Regions from separate parts of the Homo sapiens genome. Here region 1 is linked to region 2. Evidence: fine-mapped expression QTL. A gene starts in region 2. The other region holds a variant in brackets. All regions are shown on one strand. Distances are from middle to middle.

What was found. PIP is the estimated chance that this variant, and not a neighbour inherited with it, causes the effect.
Region 1: its variant is fine-mapped to the expression of ERAP1 in lymphoblastoid cells (TwinsUK, PIP 0.95).

What each region holds. Positions count from the first base shown.
Region 1 is chr5:96,756,637-96,765,393 of GRCh38, reverse strand. It overlaps CAST (calpastatin), which reads right to left. Exons shown (of 32, transcript NM_001750.7): 23 at 7,900-7,950; 24 at 7,740-7,811; 25 at 3,022-3,120; 26 at 69-173. It also overlaps a transcript of ERAP1 not described here. Among named protein-coding and RNA genes, the nearest start is that of ERAP1, 47 kb to the left of the region's middle. The variant T/C (reference allele first, on the strand shown) is at 4,270.
Region 2 is chr5:96,803,188-96,811,944 of GRCh38, reverse strand. It overlaps ERAP1 (endoplasmic reticulum aminopeptidase 1), which reads left to right and starts at 4,000. Exons shown (of 19, transcript NM_001040458.3): 1 at 4,000-4,085; 2 at 8,002-8,542. The coding sequence starts at 8,019. It overlaps LOC124901033 (a long non-coding RNA gene), which reads right to left and starts at 4,487. Exons shown (of 3, transcript XR_007058879.1): 1 at 3,368-4,487; 2 at 1-117. RefSeq lists enhancers at 3,320-3,389, 3,546-4,045, 4,046-4,547 and a silencer at 4,120-4,579.

The sequences.
Region 1 (8,757 bases), 47 kb after region 2:
AGAGTCAAGACCCAAGGATTAAAATTTCACTATTAGTGAATTTTTTTTTTTTTTTTTTTTTTTTTTACCTTTACTTTATCTTCCATTGGTTTGTTCTCATCTGGGTCAGGCTGCCTTTGTCCTAGACTGTCAGAGAGTTTATCCAAGGCATCATCGAGGTCTTTGTCACTCTGCTGAAAAGTAAATAATGCTGAATTAGTCACTCATTAGCCAAACTGTATCAGAGGCAAATTAGCCCAGGAACTCCATCTTTTCAGGAGGGAACCTGTTTCCTTGGAAGAAAAAGACATCTGGGGCTGGGGCAGGGGAGTAGACAGGGTCAGAGAAGAGAAGCCTAGGAATGGAAGATCAGGAGAAGAGCGGCAGTATCTGTCACCCTACTGGGGTTGGAGGGCCAGCACCTTCCACCCAACCCTGCCCATCTCTTGGTGAAGATCCCACCAGGTTAAGGAGGTCTTAGTGGCAGCCTCAGGAGCCATATCCAGTGGGTGACCTGGAGGTCACATAAAGGGTCCAAAAGCAAATGAACCAATCATGTGTGCCTTTCATTTAGAAATTAAACACCATTAGAAAACTGGATATGAAAACAAACATCTACTAATGTTGTCAGATGGTTAGGAAGCAAGATTCTGCAACTATAGAGGGTAAGTGTTTCTTTGGTTCTGTGGGTCCTCTCTAAAACTCTAAGATCTTGAGGGGTGCATTTCAGAAAGTGCAGCGTGACCCGCAGTTTGTGGGAAGCCATGGAGCTCGGCACTGCCATCCTAATACTTCCTAAAGCACAAAACCCCAGAGACAATCTGGGGTCAGGAGAGTGGAAGGGGCTTGTCTGCCACACTGGTGATGAGTGCCCTGAAAGACTTCAGAGAATTTCTGAACTGGTGGGGAAACCTCTCTTTTCATCTTCAGGAAGCTCATGGAAGTGAAATTGCAGAAATGGGAGCTGGTATTCTAGAGGAAAAAAATTATGGACAACAATATCACTGTAACTAAGATAGCTTATTTCCTCTAACATTTATTTACTGTATGATTCAGGCAGCTTATTTAACCCCTTTCAGCTTCAGTTTCCTTGGCCGTGAAATGTGAATAATAGTAGTACTTATACTCCTAAGTTGCTGAGAAAAGTAAATGATTGAAAAGGCATTTAAAACAATACTAGTTGTATGTTAGGACCCAACAAATGGTAAATTATTATTAGTATTATTATAGCAAAATCCATATTTTTCAACACATTGCATTCAAAATTCCACCTCTAAATGAATTCAATTAAAATGTGTTTAATATCTACATTGTATAAGACACCATGCTGAACTCTGTCCAATACTGTATAGAACTTTCCAGTTGATTTTCAAAATGTTTTCACATACACTATCCAGTTTTATTTGATGCCCACAATGGTTCTCAGTGAACTAAGCAGGCTTTTTTTTTTTGAGGTAAAAAGCTCAGGGAAGCTAAGTCAGTTGCTTGAAAACAAATTGTTAAAAAGTGAATAGAACCCAGGTCTTGGGACTGATAAAGCTTTTCCCTGTCATGCTTAGTCACATCCATGATCTTCTATTTTCTTTGAAGCAGTTTTCCTGTTGGAGTGATTTTATTACACAGATCTTTGAAATCATGTCTTCAAATGCTTTCAGTGTATGTAACACTGTTAGTAACAATCTAATAATCACAGCAAAGAAAGCTCCCGTGAATTATCATGGTTTATTTGACTCTTCGATTTCCTAATATTTTTATCTAAATAAAGCTTTATACCTTGTTTTAGTGACATCTTCAAATAAAATGTTAACTAAAAACAAGCCTCTCTGATGGGAAATGTGATCAGAGAAGTGTCATTGTAAAACCTACTTCTTAAAGGCAAAAAAGTTTTTGATTGCAAATGTTTACTGATAGCCTTCATCAGGGCAGAATCTCTGGCCTGAATATTAAGAACTGAAGTGTAAACGGCAGCCTAGGCTATTAATGATTCTTCCTTTCTGTTGCATGGGGACTTTCTTCATTGTGGGTGTGTTTACATACACACATGCACATGCACATGCACATACACACACACGGGGCATTTTACTGGTTTTAAGTGCTTTATTATAATCCAGGATTATAGCTGCTAATGGTAGAGCTGCCCGGGGCCAGGTCTGGGCTTTGTCATTTGTGCCTCTGGATATTTTCAGATGATCCTGAAGCTGACGCAACAGGATGAAAATCCATCAGAATCTCAGACTACAGCACTAAATATGCTTTGATGCTACATCAAACGGAATGGAAGCATAGCTGACTTCGCTAAAGTTACTTCATCTCCATCTAGCAAATGAGGCACTGTTCTCAACCAAAGGAGATGGGGATCTGGTTTAGGGCAATCCCTTTATAATTTGATGTGCTGTGGTCTCCTTGGTAATGTATAATTTGGTATTGCACAGGTGATTAGTCAAGGAAGTCTGGAAAAGCTTTGGTCCCACAGCCTTGCCTCACAGCATGTAAATAATTAAAACAATATTGATGCTGAGGTTCTTCTACTGCTAGTATGAAAGTGACAAATTTTTACTGGTGTGAATTGGGAAGAAAACAATGCTATTCCATGACGTTTGTAAAATGTTTGTAAAAGCTCAAACATGACGATTCCATAAAATAAACTTGAGGTTAAATAATGGGTAGTAAATTATAGAATGTATAAGAAAAAATATAAAGGAGAAAATCAATTATCAGGAAAGCTAAAGAACTTTTCAAATCTAGTAATTTGAATATAGACACAATGCACTTTATTGCACTTTCAATTCTTATAAAGCAACAATAATATTAAGGTCCTTGACTATGTGTACAATGTTTTCACATATATAGTTTCATTTAATCATTTCAAAGTTAATCTCTGCCATCTCGCTAAATCATCAGTCTCGGCTCTTCTGAAATAGAAGGTGCCTGATCTTCCTAATAATTCTGCCTATTTTCATTTGCTTTAAACAGGCGCCCTATTTTCTTTCTAGTTGTGGCTGCGCAAAAACATTTATCTCCCAAATAAGATGTGCTGCTTACCGAGGTATCACGGGGTGGGGCTCCAGCTTGGGTCGTTGAAGCTGGGGTTTGGGAAACCACTTCAGAGATGGCAGCAGCAAGTTTAGCATCTTCAAATTTCTTTTATTGAAAAAAATTTTATTAGTAACATGTTGTATATAAAATTATGAGCACAATGCCATCACTTAACTATAACTCTTAAAGATAGCTTAATGACTGTTTATTCTCTTGACCAAATAGACTCATAATAACATATAATTTTAAAAGAAATTTAAATTCTTTCTTCTCTATTGTATTATTTTATACAATTTGCTATTTCTATTTCCTTCTCATATTGATTATTCTAAATACTATGCAATAATATAACTTAGAGTTCCACGGTTTGTTTACACATTTCCTGTTGTACATTTAGGTTATTCAAAGTTTTCAGCTCTTTTAAAATTGCTCTGAATAAGTTCTAGTGAGTGAGTTATGGTGCTGGCTATATTTTGCTAAACTGCCCTCTCAAATGTTGCTAGGAATTCATACTGCGAAAAGCAATGAATAAGCATGCCTGTTTTCCCATGGCCTTGCTTGCCAGAATTTGACTTTTATTATGATAATCAGTGTAAAATGATATACTACTATTGCTTGTATATTGTGGTATACGGTGTCAGGTTTCAGGGTTTTTTTTCAACGTTAAATATTCTAGAAACTTTCTGAAATAATTTCTGTTTAAAAATATTGAATATTTGCTTCATTTCAAATACTCCCTTTTGACAAAAAAACTTAGGTATAACTGTTGATGAAAAACCAGAAAAAAGTCCAGAACTCTTTGGTGACTCCAACTATGGATAGCTTATTTTGAAAAAGGAGAATTGCAAATTTTACCAAAAGATGGAGAAAAGCACATTAAAAAGATACCAACATTCAGAAATTCATTTCAGCATGTTATTATTGGAAATTATTTAAACTAATTTAGATAACTATAAGATACTTATTGTCCATTTATACCCTGTAAAGCCGTTTTAGAATGTAATATTTTAGGTAATCCAAAATGTACTAAATTAAATTCATTTTTAGTTATGAGAAATCTTTGCTTATATGACAAATGAAAAGAATAACAAGTTGTCAAATGAAAAGAATGACATTGAAACATTTGTATTGTCTCTTCTTAAACTATCTTATTGACTTATTATTTAAGCCTTTTAATACTAAGTATGAAACAACCTATGGTCTGGAAATTTGTATCGCAAAGCTATATGTGCATATGTTATTTAATTCATCTAA[T/C]GCTACACAAAAGCATAAAATAATGATTTTTCACTCTCTTTAAAAATACTAAATCATTTATGTCCATTTCTCAATTTTTTCATTGATCTATGCTTTGAGTTTGCTTTCTCAACATTATTGTATTTTCCACTTATTATTACTGTATAACATATGCTAGTGTTTAGTTGGATTAATCTTACCTAAAAGTACTGAAAAATGCTTTTTAGTACTTTTTCATATTTTATACATTTATTTTCCGAATGTATCATTGAATAATTTTATTGAGTTATAAAAGTATCTTATTGCTATTTAATAAAAAATTAACACATAAAATGACTTGAATTGTCATCATTCTTTTTAAGATATTTAGTTAAACTGACTTAATGTATGGCCTTCAATTTTTTTGTGTCCTTATTTTTCTGATCATTTCTCCTTTTATAGTTTACATTAAGTCTGATCTCATATTAATTACATTTTCTCATCTGTTGTTACTAATAAACATGGCATAATGTTACTTACAAATGTATTATCTACAAGTAGTGCTATCCACAAATATATTCAAATGTTCCCTTTTAATGTTTGTCATTTTTTTCATGTGTTGTTAATGATTCTTCCATGTGATAATAAGCAGAAATGACAATAAACTTTTCATAGTTTCTGCTTTTAAGGAAAATGCCTCCAGCATGATATTGAATATTTGATTCTGAAAACTAAAGACTCTTTAACAGATTAGGGGATTGCCTACTTTTTAAAAAGTTTTTATTTATAATATGAGTATATGTAAAATTTTAAATAGATCTTTTACATGGACATGATTATTTGTTTCTATTTGATATACCACTACAATATATTGACAGTTTTCCTGCTACTGAATCAATACTTATAATGGCAAATAATTTAACTGTTTGTTATATTCTATGTATGCTGTATGTAATTTTTACATCTACACATTTAAGTAACTTTAGCTGATACCGTTATATTTGTCAGATTTTAAGATTAGCACCATAATTACTCATAGAAGCAACTATGTGACCCCATCTTTTTCATGACATATTTATGCCACATAAGAACTGAGTGTTCAACAGTTAGAGTCATCTTTAAACCTTCAGTAGAAGGACAGTTTGAAAATCATTGCAATATTTTCTTCAGTCTTTTTTTAGGTTTTGTGAATTACGCAGTTTAATATTTTTGTTTAATCTTAGAAAATTGTTGTACATAGTGTTTCCTAATAATTTATTTGTGCTCTGTACTGATTATTGTATTTTCTCACATTTATGTTAAATTTTATTAGTAAGATTATTTTCTCTATTTATCAGTTTTGTAAAATGTTAAAAATTCATAAAAGCCAACTGACTATTGGCTTTAAACTACCAATAATTTAGTTGATCTCTATATTATTATATTACTCTGTTAAAATTTAATTGTATTTTTTGTAAGGTTTTTTTTCCTCTTTTATATTTGCTAGTATTTTATAAAGTATTTGTTATTTCAAAAGAAACAACTATTGGCCAGTTAACTTTCATGCCGCTATTTTCATTTCCTGGTATGCTTATTGCTACTTTGTTTTTGGTGGCTACCTTATTAAAACTTTTAGAAATTTCAGTTTAAAATTCAATAAGCATTTAGTTTATCAGGTTTCTCTTTTTCTCTTTCTCTACTATTGATAAAGGTGTTTATGACAATGTATCACAGGAATACTGCTTTGACTGCTTCTCAAAGACTTTTTCTTGTAATATCTTTGATGTTTTAAAATAGTCTATTATCAATGTGATCTCAGTATTATTAGGGGAATAGTTTTAAGTGTTTCTTTTTATATAGCATTTCTGTTCTATTATATCAAAGAGCATGGTACGTACAGGAGCTACTCTTTTACAGATGAACACTAATTATGAGCCATATGTGATACTTCTCCCCCAAATTTCTTGAAACTTTCCACTAAATAACTATTTTGATTATTTGGTTCTCATGATGATTAGTTATTTCTACTTTATTAACTATATTGTTGGCACTAATGTTTCCTTTGCTAATTTTCTAAGAGTAAGATTTTTTTTAAAGGTTGTTTCATCTCACCATTTCACTGCTACATATCTTTGAAGGGGGCATATAAATCCATTGTTACTTTTTCCAAATCTTTGAATTTCTAAAAGAAAAAACAACCCTAACAATTGTAATAATAATAATGATAGGAGGAGGAAGGGAATTGAGATCTTGTTCCCCACTATTTGTTCATCTGTTCTGCCTCAGTGTAATGCTATGACTCCACATTCCTGGCGTACTCCTCACATTGTATTCTTCCCCATGTCTTATGGTTTCTAAATCAAGGCTGGAGTGCTTTGCTGTGATGTGGTCTGTATGGAAGACGATGAGAGGAAGGTCACGGGATGAGGTGACTGAGCAGCACGGTGCTTTTACAGGGGTACAGAGAATAACATGCTCTGGTTAGTAAGCTCTTCTTTGAGGGGCTTTATTGCTTCATTCAGCAAAAGTAACAACTTCAGGCAATTCCAAAGAATCATTATTTCTTCTAGTTGTCATTCTGTCTATTCTCCAACTGATATAAATATATTTTCCATGCCACTGTCATAGAAACTGTTAATCCCTTTCCAACTGACTGCTAATAATACATTCAGTGGTTTAAAAACTGAGTTCCCAGTAAACAGATAAACCAGACCCCACAAGAAAAGGTTCTGCAGTTATTAAGTTTGGGAACTCTAACAGACTCACTATATATTTGCATATAAAAAGCCATGAAAATCCTACAGTAGAGAAACCTGCTTAACATTACCCAATATTGTCCAAACTTTTCGAGTAACAGAGTTCCCTTTGAGGGACTCTATATTCCACATGGAGCTAAGTTCCCTTAGGAGGCAATTTGGGAAATGATAAATTGTAGAAATATCAATAGGTAAAGTTGTCTGAGGAGTAATTTTGGATAAGCTTACATTTAAATTCTCTTTTCATAGGGGTACTGGTACTTGATATTAGTTACACTAATAAAAGCATCCACTATGTTGGGACAGTATTTCATGGTGCAACACATTTTTAATGGCTACAGTGGGTTGAGGGCCATTAATTTTATGATTGTTCCTGAGTTCCCAAGTCAGATTCTAAGTCACCAGTTTCCATTTATTTCTGCCACTCTAAAACTAAAGAAATAGGCCAGGCGCGGTGGCTCATGCCTGTAATCCAAGCACTTTCAGAGGCCGAGGTGGGCGGATCATGAGGTTAGGAGACTGACACCAGCCTGGCCAGCATGGTGAAAGCCCGTCTCTACTAAAAATACAAAAATTAGCTGGGTGTGGTGGTGCACCCCTGTAGTCCCAGCTACTCAGGAGGCTGGGGCAGGAGAATCGCTTGAATCTGGAAGGTGGAGGTTGCGGTGACTGAAGATGGCACCACTGTACTCCCGCCTGGATGACAGAGCAAGACTCCATCTCAAAGGAAAAAAAAAAAAAAAACTAAAGAAATAAAACCAAGAGTTTTGGACTTACAAGAGATGAAGCATTTTGTGGACCAGAGAAGTCCTCAGACAAAGCATCCAGAAGGAAGTCTTCACTCATGGGCTGCAAGAACCAGGAAATGTATCAACAAACACCATTGCAATCAGGGCCAAAAGGAAAAGATATCCTCAGAGAAAACTGGTTTGCTTACTGGAAGCTGTTCCTTAGACTCTTTTGGCAGGAGTGGCTTTCCATCTTTATCCTATCCGGGGGGGAAAACACATGGCATGAAATCATTTTACATTTTATCCAAAGTATGAAACCTTGTAAACATTACAAAGGGTCTACAGGTTATACTTGCTGTTGTACATTTTAAATTAGATCCATCATGTCACGAAGGATTCTCTCACCAGAGAATATGCTCTAATTAGTTCATGGCAACAAACAGCTCACAAGCACCAGGCATTCCTGAGTCACGGGGGCTGCACACTGGATGAGGTATGGCTTGTGACCTCAGAAGCCTAGAGACTATCACAGCAGGAAAACGTGAAAGTCAGCATAGTGTGGTATGTGGTGCTGTGACTGGGGTTTGCAGGACAGTGTGGGATAAGCCCTTTACCTACATGGGGGTGGGCTTTGTAGAGGTTGTCTGGAAAATGCTGGTTAACCTTGTAAGCCACACATCTAACTCATATGCAAGGACTACATGCCAAGCCCTGACCTAAGTAAGCATTGGCAATACAACAGAAAATCGCACAAAGGCCTTGCCCTCAGGGAGTTTAACCTGTCAGTGAAACGCTCTGCAACTTATGGTTCAGATTAGGTCAAGCTGTTTATGACTCCAAGTGCCACATTTGAGTAACACGACAAAATGAAGAAAGCATGCGGGGCTCTTTAGTAAAAGGAGATCTATATACTAATAGTAAATCCCATTTATCCACCTACACAAAAATAAGTAAATACAAAGATATACATATATATGAATATTTCACCTGAGAAACTGGTTAAGGTTGGTTTTTGTTTCATTGAAAATGTGAAGTGCAATGGTTTAGAGGTACAAGTTGAGTAT
Region 2 (8,757 bases):
GCCTGTCACCTACTGAGGAAGGTTGGAGACAGGTGGATTCCCTGGGTTCTGTAAGGCTGCAAGAACTGGAAACATGCTCAGGTTACCTTAGACAGCAGTATCTTGTGAAATAAATGCCTGAGGGAGGGAAAATGGGAAACATGTGATCAGTCCTCGTGGCACCTAGAATGTTCTTCAGGATCCACAATTCTAGAAGTTCAAGGGCAGCTGTGGTCACTCAACTTGCTTGAGTTGTTCCTACAGAATCTGGCATACATTGCTCGCTCCCATAGTGCTCTGTTGTATGGTAATACAGGACTCTCTCTGAAGACTGACTCCAACTGGCTAAATCAAAAAGGAAAGCATTGGTCCTCTTGAATGGAAGGTCTAAGGACAGGATTTGCTCAGGACAGCTGGAGCTGAGGGCTTTAGTGGAGGTATTCTCTGTCTCTGTCAGCCCTGCTGTCCTTTGAACTGGCTTCACTTTAAAGCAGGCTTTTTCCATGTGGTGGCCCCTGGTAGGTCACTTCACATCTCTAATCCTGTTTCCTCATTCTAGAAAAATGGAGCTACTAGCCACCTGCATAAGTACAATGTGAGGATCCCATGAGATAGACTATATGTAAATGCTTTCAAGCTGCCACATTTCAGAGGACTTTATTATTTGATATGAGCTCAGTGGCCTGTTTTGGAACAGTCTTTAACATGGCATCTGTACCGTCTTCCCTGTTTCTGATTATTAATAAGATGGTATTGCTTTTGTTAAGCAAGCCTGCTCTGCAACTTGGCACAGAGGGGGAAAAAAGTCATCCTCTTTATCAAGAATATCAAGAATGAGGGGCATTATTATTTTTTTTTAAATTGGCATTTAAAAAAATTAAGTTCTAAGGCCCTGGGAGCCTATGGAAGAGTCTCAAGGACCACAATGTGTGTGGAAGGGCCGGATAGCAGTGGGCAAGGCTGACTGGGTGGAGCTGCCCTGTTTAATAAGAGCAGGCCTGCTTTTGTCTGTTTTCTACACCATGATTCTGGATGAGATTTTACATCAAAAAGGAGAGTGGTAATATGATTAAAATAGGAGCAGCTTTGGCAGCAAAACAGAAGAAATGAGCCAAACGCTGACATTAATTGACTAAAAGCTAATGAAAGCAGAACTGAATCAATCAATTACAGCAAAATTGAACATCACTTGACAATATCTAGAATTCAATATTTTTTAAGTAGATCAGTAATAGCTCAAAGTGGTATGTATTTCATTGGCCTAGGCCTGAAATTCTCCTCATTCCTCTGGCTCACCTCTGGGACTAAGGACACTGAGAAGCCTCTGCAATGGATGGGCTCAACCGGCCAACCAGCCCTCCTACACTATATGGTATACAATATTAGTGTTTACCAACCCCTCCTTGTTCTGGCCAATGCAATGTGAGTAGAATTAGTGTGTGTTTTCTCTTTGACTCTGAGCAAGTTGCCGACCTGTCTCATTTTTCTCATCTATAAAGCATAATATCTACATTACAGGGTTGCTGAAGAGATCAAATTATAAACACACACATGCACACATAGCTAGCATTTAACAGTATCTAACAGTTGGTAGGGAATCAATAAACCTAGGTACCCTTTCTCTCTGTTCCCTTCCTTCTAACCATTTCTAAGCTCGGTAATGTGCTGTTTTGATCTCACAGGCTCTAGAACTAGGACTCCTTAAAGTCCTTACTCCAAGGTCTGTGTCCTCTACATCCCTGCTAGGGCTTTGAAACTAGAAGTGAATGCTGCCAAATCCTCTGACTTATCGCTCTTTGTAGTGCACTTCAACTCTAAAGACGAAATCACGGCCAGGGCGACAGGCTAAAGTCTGAGTCAGGGTGAGCTTTTGGGGAAACGGCGTGGAGCGGGTGGTGGTGTCAGCTCTCTCCTCGCCTACACTTCAGCTCCTTTCTGCCCACATCCATTCAGGGCATTGCCCTGTTTGTCTCCTCAGCTGTCTTCTGTATTAACCTCCAGCCTGTTGGGTGCATTCAGTTCTGCCAGCTGGACTTTCAATATGTATTTAAAAAGACACATAAACAAAAAACAAAAACAAAAACAAAAAAACTTTACTAGAAGCCAAAGGAAAACCATCATATTCAAAAATATAAATATAAAAGCAAAGAAATGCATACATTTACTGGACAAAGAGGTCTCATCTTGAGTAAACTGGGAGCACTCCGAGATGTCTGGAGGTCTTGGAGGCTACACGCTATCCATTGATACCTCCTGTCAAATTCTGAACATGCAGAAATTACCAGATCTCAAAGTCCTCATTTCTTGTTGAATTTTAGTGAAAAAAACTTCCCTGGATCCCACCGTAGTTGAGTCTTGGAACAGGGTGTTAATCTTTATATTATAAAATGTCCTTGACTAGAGATAATAGGCAGTATGAAACATTATATTTTTAAAAAGGAAACATAATATTGAAAAAAAAAGAGAAATACTGTTGCAGTGACTTGGAATCCCCAGTTCTCAAAGGGAAGAAGGCCAATAAAGAAGTGGGAGAAGAAAGTCTGAGAACCGCATGAAAAGGGTCCTGTTCCCACTAGGACCATGGTCCACTCACCAAATTATCAGAGACGTTTGAACCAGAGCAACTCCATCTTGAATAGGAGCTGGGTAAAATAAGGCTGAGACCTACTGGGCTACACTCCCAGGAGGTTAGACATTCTAAGTCACAGAATGAGATAGAAGGTAGGCACAAGACACAGGTCATAAAGACCTTGCTGATAAAACAGGTTGCAGTAAGGAAGCTGGCCAAAACCCACCAAAACCAGGATGGCAATGAGAGTGTCCTCTGGTCGTCACTGCTACGGTCTCACCAGCTCCATGACAGTTTACAAATGCCACTGCAACGTCGGGAAGCTACCCTATATGGTCTAAAAAGGGGAGGCATGAATAATTTCCCCCGCTTAGCATATAATCAAGAAATAACCCTAAAAATGGACAACCAACAGCCCTTGGGGGTGCTCTGCCTATGAGTAGCCATTCTTTTATTCCTTTAGTTTCTTAATTACTTGCTTTCACTTTACTCCATGGACTCCCCTCAAATTCTTTCTTGCGCAAAATCCAAGAACCCTCTCTTGGGGTCTGGATCGGGACCCATTTTCGGTAATAAACTTGTAGCATTTGGTGTTTTAATGTTTGTGTTTTCTTGACTTGTTACCTCATTTAGCCTCAACTGTTTAAAGATGGTCTTTTTGGCCATTTTATTCAGCTTTAATTGTTCTAAGGGGAGTGAAGAAATGGTCATTTACTTTGAAAAATCAGAGGGAACGTGTTGATGCGGGAAGCAGCTAATCCTTGGGGTACAGTGGCCCTTGGTAGTGCAGGAAAGTCCTGGGGGCCACCTCTAACCCACCTTCCTCCTCTACAGCATCTCCCACTGTAGTCATTCTCTACCGAAGCCCCAGAAGGTGCGGCACTTTGCCACGACAGAGTACTGGGTTCATGTTTCTTTCCGAGGCGGGCCAAGAGCTCTCAGCCCACTGGCAGTGGCGAGATGACGGACACCCAGCGAGTCCAATGGGCGTCGAACGCGTCTAGGCTTGGTGGACTTGTCAGCGCCTGCCTGGCTTCGGTCCCCAACTTGAGCACCGGCCCTTTCCTGCATGCCCCTAACCCTCGCAACGCTAAACAGTGAAAAAAAAAAAAAGACAAAAACAAAAAGCATCTCAACACACACACACACACACACACACACACACACACACACACACACACACACACACACACACACACACACACACACGGATCCGCGTTCAGAAAGGCGTGCACTTCCTACGCCTGATCCCCCGCATCGCAACCTCGCAGCTTCCCCGGCGTGCAGCGCTCATTTACCAATTCCCTTCCTGGGAGTTGCGGCTTCCCTCGCTCGGCCCCACTCCCGTTTACCCTTTCCCCAGCTCCCGCCTTAGCCAGGGGCTTCCCCGCCTGCCGCTAGGGCTCGGGCCGAAGCGCCGCTCAGCGCCAGCCTGCCGCTCCCCGGGCTCCACTTTCACTTTCGGTCCTGGGGGAGCTAGGCCGGCGGCAGTGGTGGTGGCGGCGGCGCAAGGGTGAGGGCGGCCCCAGAACCCCAGGTACAGCGCGCTCGAGCCGCGGGTAGGGGACTGCGGGCCGGGAGGAGAGCGCGGCACCCGCCCCTTCCCTGCGCCCGTCAAGTGGGGGGCTGAGGGCCTGGGGCACGGGAGGAGGGAGACGGGGCACGGGAGGAGGGAGACGGGGCGCGGGAGGAAGGCGACGGGGCGCGGGAGGAAGGCGACGGGGCGCGAGACAGGGCGCGGGAAGGGCGGGGGGAGTCGCTGGCTAGGCCCGAGTCCGCGGGGTGCCCGGCGGGTTGGCGGCGGGCCCACCCCTGCCGGTCCCTGTCCCTGTCCCTCCGGGCGCGTGGCCGGTGCGCCTGCTTCACGGGTCTCCCCGCTGTTCGGCCGGCGGGAGCCTCCCTCAGCGCTCCGCCTGGCGCCTGGATGCCTGCCAGTCCTGCAGGCCACCGACGCCCGCGCGAGGCCAAAAGGCGGGGTGGGGCGGGCAGCTGGCTCGGGCTGAGGAGGGCACCTGCCCATAGCTGCTAGAGAAACCCAGAGGCTTTGGGTTAAAGACTCTGGTGGGGTGGGATGCGCGGGCCGTGTGTGTTCTTAAGGTCACTTCCCTCCCTGCTTCTCCTGTTCTTCTGGTCAGCAATTCTCTCTCTCCCCTTCGCTCTGGCTCTGGCTGGGTTTTATTCAGATAAAGCACCTCTGTTGACGCAAATTAAAAGTTTCCTATCTGGGTGCCTCACTGGCCAGGTGGTCCTACAAAGTTAATTCCATGAGGGGAAGGGGGAGAGCACACACTTCCTCACGCTTTTGGATTTCTTTGTGTAGGCTAGGTTCAGAAAGAAATTATCTGTTTCCTATTAAACACCCAGAGGATTCGCTCTGAACTCAGGACGTGGTCAACAATTAACAAAACAACAAAACAAAACAAAACAAAACAAAAAACTTGAAAATTGGGCACAGTTGTCTCTTGCCTGAGGATTTTTAATTAGTATAAGTAGCACATTTTCAGGTGCGGCCTGAATAGAAACATTCTAGTACTTTTTTTTTTTTCAAATTAATCCAGCATTTTTATTATTTACCAACAGTGCTTGTTAATTTCATTGTTCAGGAAATTCTGGAAGAACCTCAATTACTTCTTGATGATCTATTTCATATACTATAGTGCCCCAATAAAAGGAAGGGAGGCAGAGGTTGCAGTGAGCCAAGATCGCACCACTGCACTCCAGCCTGGGAGACAGAGCGAGACTCCGTCTCAAAAAAAAAAAAAAAAAAAAAAAAGAGGGATCTTGGTGAAGCTGAAAAAGCAGGGAGTTTATACTCACACAGATGTGGATTGCATTCCAACAAGTTGTGTGAACTTAGCAAAGTTACATGAATGGTTCTTTGCTTCAGTTACCCCACCTTGAATGAGAATAATAGGCTATTAGAGAGAGTGAGCATGTGTAAAGTGCCTGGCACTTTGGAGGAGCTTAGTAAATATTAGTTCTTTTTCCTCCTTGGCTTCTATTCCTTTAAGTGTTAGTGGAGTGTAACTTCAAAGAGAATTGTACTTCTCTTGGGAAGAGCTGCTTATATTGAGTAGACTACTGTTTTTGAGAGCTTTCTTTTTTTTTAACTGCCTCCCTTTCAGAAAATTGTTAGTAAAACCAGACCCTAGGAGACCAGCCAGAACCATGAAATGCCATGTTTCAAACTGGAACACTTACTATTGGAAGCAAAGCCAAACAAGAGCTAATTTTTCAGGGGAAGAGCCAAACACACGAACATGATCACAGAATCTTGGATGTAGCCTACAGTTTGGGATTAATAAGAGAATTTATTAGTGAAGCCCTTTATTCACTACATGGAGTTTTTACCAAGCCCCACTCATGCACTGCATCCTCGTTGAGACATAACTGTTTCTCTTTGGACCCCTCATGGACCCAACCCTGCAAAGCCTCTGATCCAAGGTCCCGGTACCAACCCCTTCCGCAGCACATCAGCCTTTCTGTCAGCTCATAACGAGTTGGAATTTCTAGATCTTCTCTGGGGCTGTTGGAGAGGTCTCGGGGACTTTCAGAGTCCTTACATGCTTGAACCTGCCACCTTCACAGAGTCCTCTGGATCCCGTCTTGGGGCAGGGGCGATGCTCATTAAGCTGTTGCTGCCAGTAATTCCATATGGAAAGCAAAACACAAGTTCCATTTACTCTCTAGTTCCCCAACTTCAAGGGCAAAAAAATGTTCTCCCTGTTCACACTTCCTGTCTCACCTGGGTGGTGCCTTTTGAACTGGGATTATGAGATTTCCAAGACTCTCTCTAATGTGTAGGTATCCTTTCTGTTTAGCCTCCAGATTGCTCCAGAGGTGAGGAGAAGGGAATTCCCTTGAGCTGTGCATTTGGGAAGGGAGCAAGGAAGTCAGGGGTTAGGGAAGGCACTTCAGCCATTGCCTTGAATTAGTATCCTATCACATAGAGTTGAAGGGGGAAAGCCAGGATTTGGCAAGGATGAGCTTTTCAACCTTGGCTTCTCAGTAAAATCTCTGGACAGTTTTTTTTTTTTTTAAAAAAAAAAACCAAAAACCAGAAATTAAACAATCCGTAAAACCATACCCCGATCTTATCACCATAGGTTCCAGTTTAATTGTTGTCAATAAGGACCCAGGCATCGAAAATTTTAAAAGCTTCCCAGGTTACATTAATATGCAGCCAGAGTTAGGAAACTTGACATCTCAGAGAGGGAGAATTCCATGTACTGTGAACACTTTGAGGGATCCACATTGTAAGCTTGCTACTTTTCCCAACTGGAACACGAGGAGTTTGGGCCAATCACTTGCATTCACCTGGTATGGGCCCCTCTTGGCAAACACCCATTAGAAAGGTGCGTTTGTATAAAAGAAATAAAAACTTATGTTTGATGCTTGGGGCATGGTTTGCCAACTTCCTTAAAATTCACATTGCCTTTTTTTTTTTTTTTTAAAGACAGAGTCTTGCTCTGTTGCCAGGCTGGAGTGCAGTGGTGCAATCTCAGCTCACTGCAACTCTGCCTCCCAGGTTCAAGCGATTCTCCTGCCTCAGCCTCCCAAGTAATTAGGACTACAGGTGCGCACCACCACACCCAGCTAATTTTTGTATTTTTAGTAGAGACGGGATTTCGCCATGTTGGCCAGGATGGTCTCAATCTGTTGACCTTGTGATCTGCCCACCTCATCCTCCCAAAGTGCTGGGATTACAGGCGTGAGCCACCATGCCTGGCCTGAAATTCACATTGCTTTTATGTCTTTAAAATCAATCCAGGTGATTGATACGTTTGCCACAAACTACTGGGAAAATTAAGCTCTTTAAGCTCTTCCTGGCTAAATAAATAGGTAATTAACTTTTGGCATGACAATTTGAGGAAGACACTGATGTTATTAAAGGTTACCATTACATATACTTACAGGGGAAGTGGAGACCTCGTTCTAGTGGTGGCTGCCACTGTGTCAGCATTTGATTTCCAGGGTACTAGGGTGACTTTCTCCAAGGTCCAGTGTCAGTGGGGAGTGGTGCTTGATCAGATGTTCCTCTGATATGGTTCTGGTTTTGCTTCTTTCATGAGCCTGGTTTCCCAAATGTCCTGCAACTCTGTGACCCGTGTAGTGAGCCACTCAGGATCCCCTAATGATTCCTTTTCTGCCTATATCAGCCAGAGCTTGTTCGGTTGCTTTCAACCAAGAACCCTGACAGGTAGAGTTAATTTAAACTTTGAACATCAAATGATGCTTTCTAGTACGTGTTAATGATTGTTGCTAACTGTAAACATCTTTCTTATATGAAACCATAACATAGGGAAGGTCCTTTTACTTTCAGGAAAAGACCTAGTACTTTTGGAAGTTTATGCCTATTTCTGTGAATGCTGGGTGGATACATTCTGAAATTATGCTGTGTCAATAACATTTTAATGACATATATTTTTGCTTTTGTACATTTGTGCCGCTAGGTAGGTAGAGCAAGAAGATGGTGTTTCTGCCCCTCAAATGGTCCCTTGCAACCATGTCATTTCTACTTTCCTCACTGTTGGCTCTCTTAACTGTGTCCACTCCTTCATGGTGTCAGAGCACTGAAGCATCTCCAAAACGTAGTGATGGGACACCATTTCCTTGGAATAAAATACGACTTCCTGAGTACGTCATCCCAGTTCATTATGATCTCTTGATCCATGCAAACCTTACCACGCTGACCTTCTGGGGAACCACGAAAGTAGAAATCACAGCCAGTCAGCCCACCAGCACCATCATCCTGCATAGTCACCACCTGCAGATATCTAGGGCCACCCTCAGGAAGGGAGCTGGAGAGAGGCTATCGGAAGAACCCCTGCAGGTCCTGGAACACCCCCGTCAGGAGCAAATTGCACTGCTGGCTCCCGAGCCCCTCCTTGTCGGGCTCCCGTACACAGTTGTCATTCACTATGCTGGCAATCTTTCGGAGACTTTCCACGGATTTTACAAAAGCACCTACAGAACCAAGGAAGGGGAACTGAGGTATTTTTTTTTCTCTTTTTCTTTTAAACTGCAAGTGCTGCCCACGCTAAATTCATTATTTCAGATTGATTGTCTTTTAAAATTCCCTTTGCTGTTGAACTTTTTCTTCAGTTTTGCTTTTGCATCTTCTTTATAGTGTTAAAAATGGCTTTTTCCCTTGCTTTTTAAATCTCATTTTAAAATTCTATTTTAACCAATTTTCTTTCCCCCAGCTC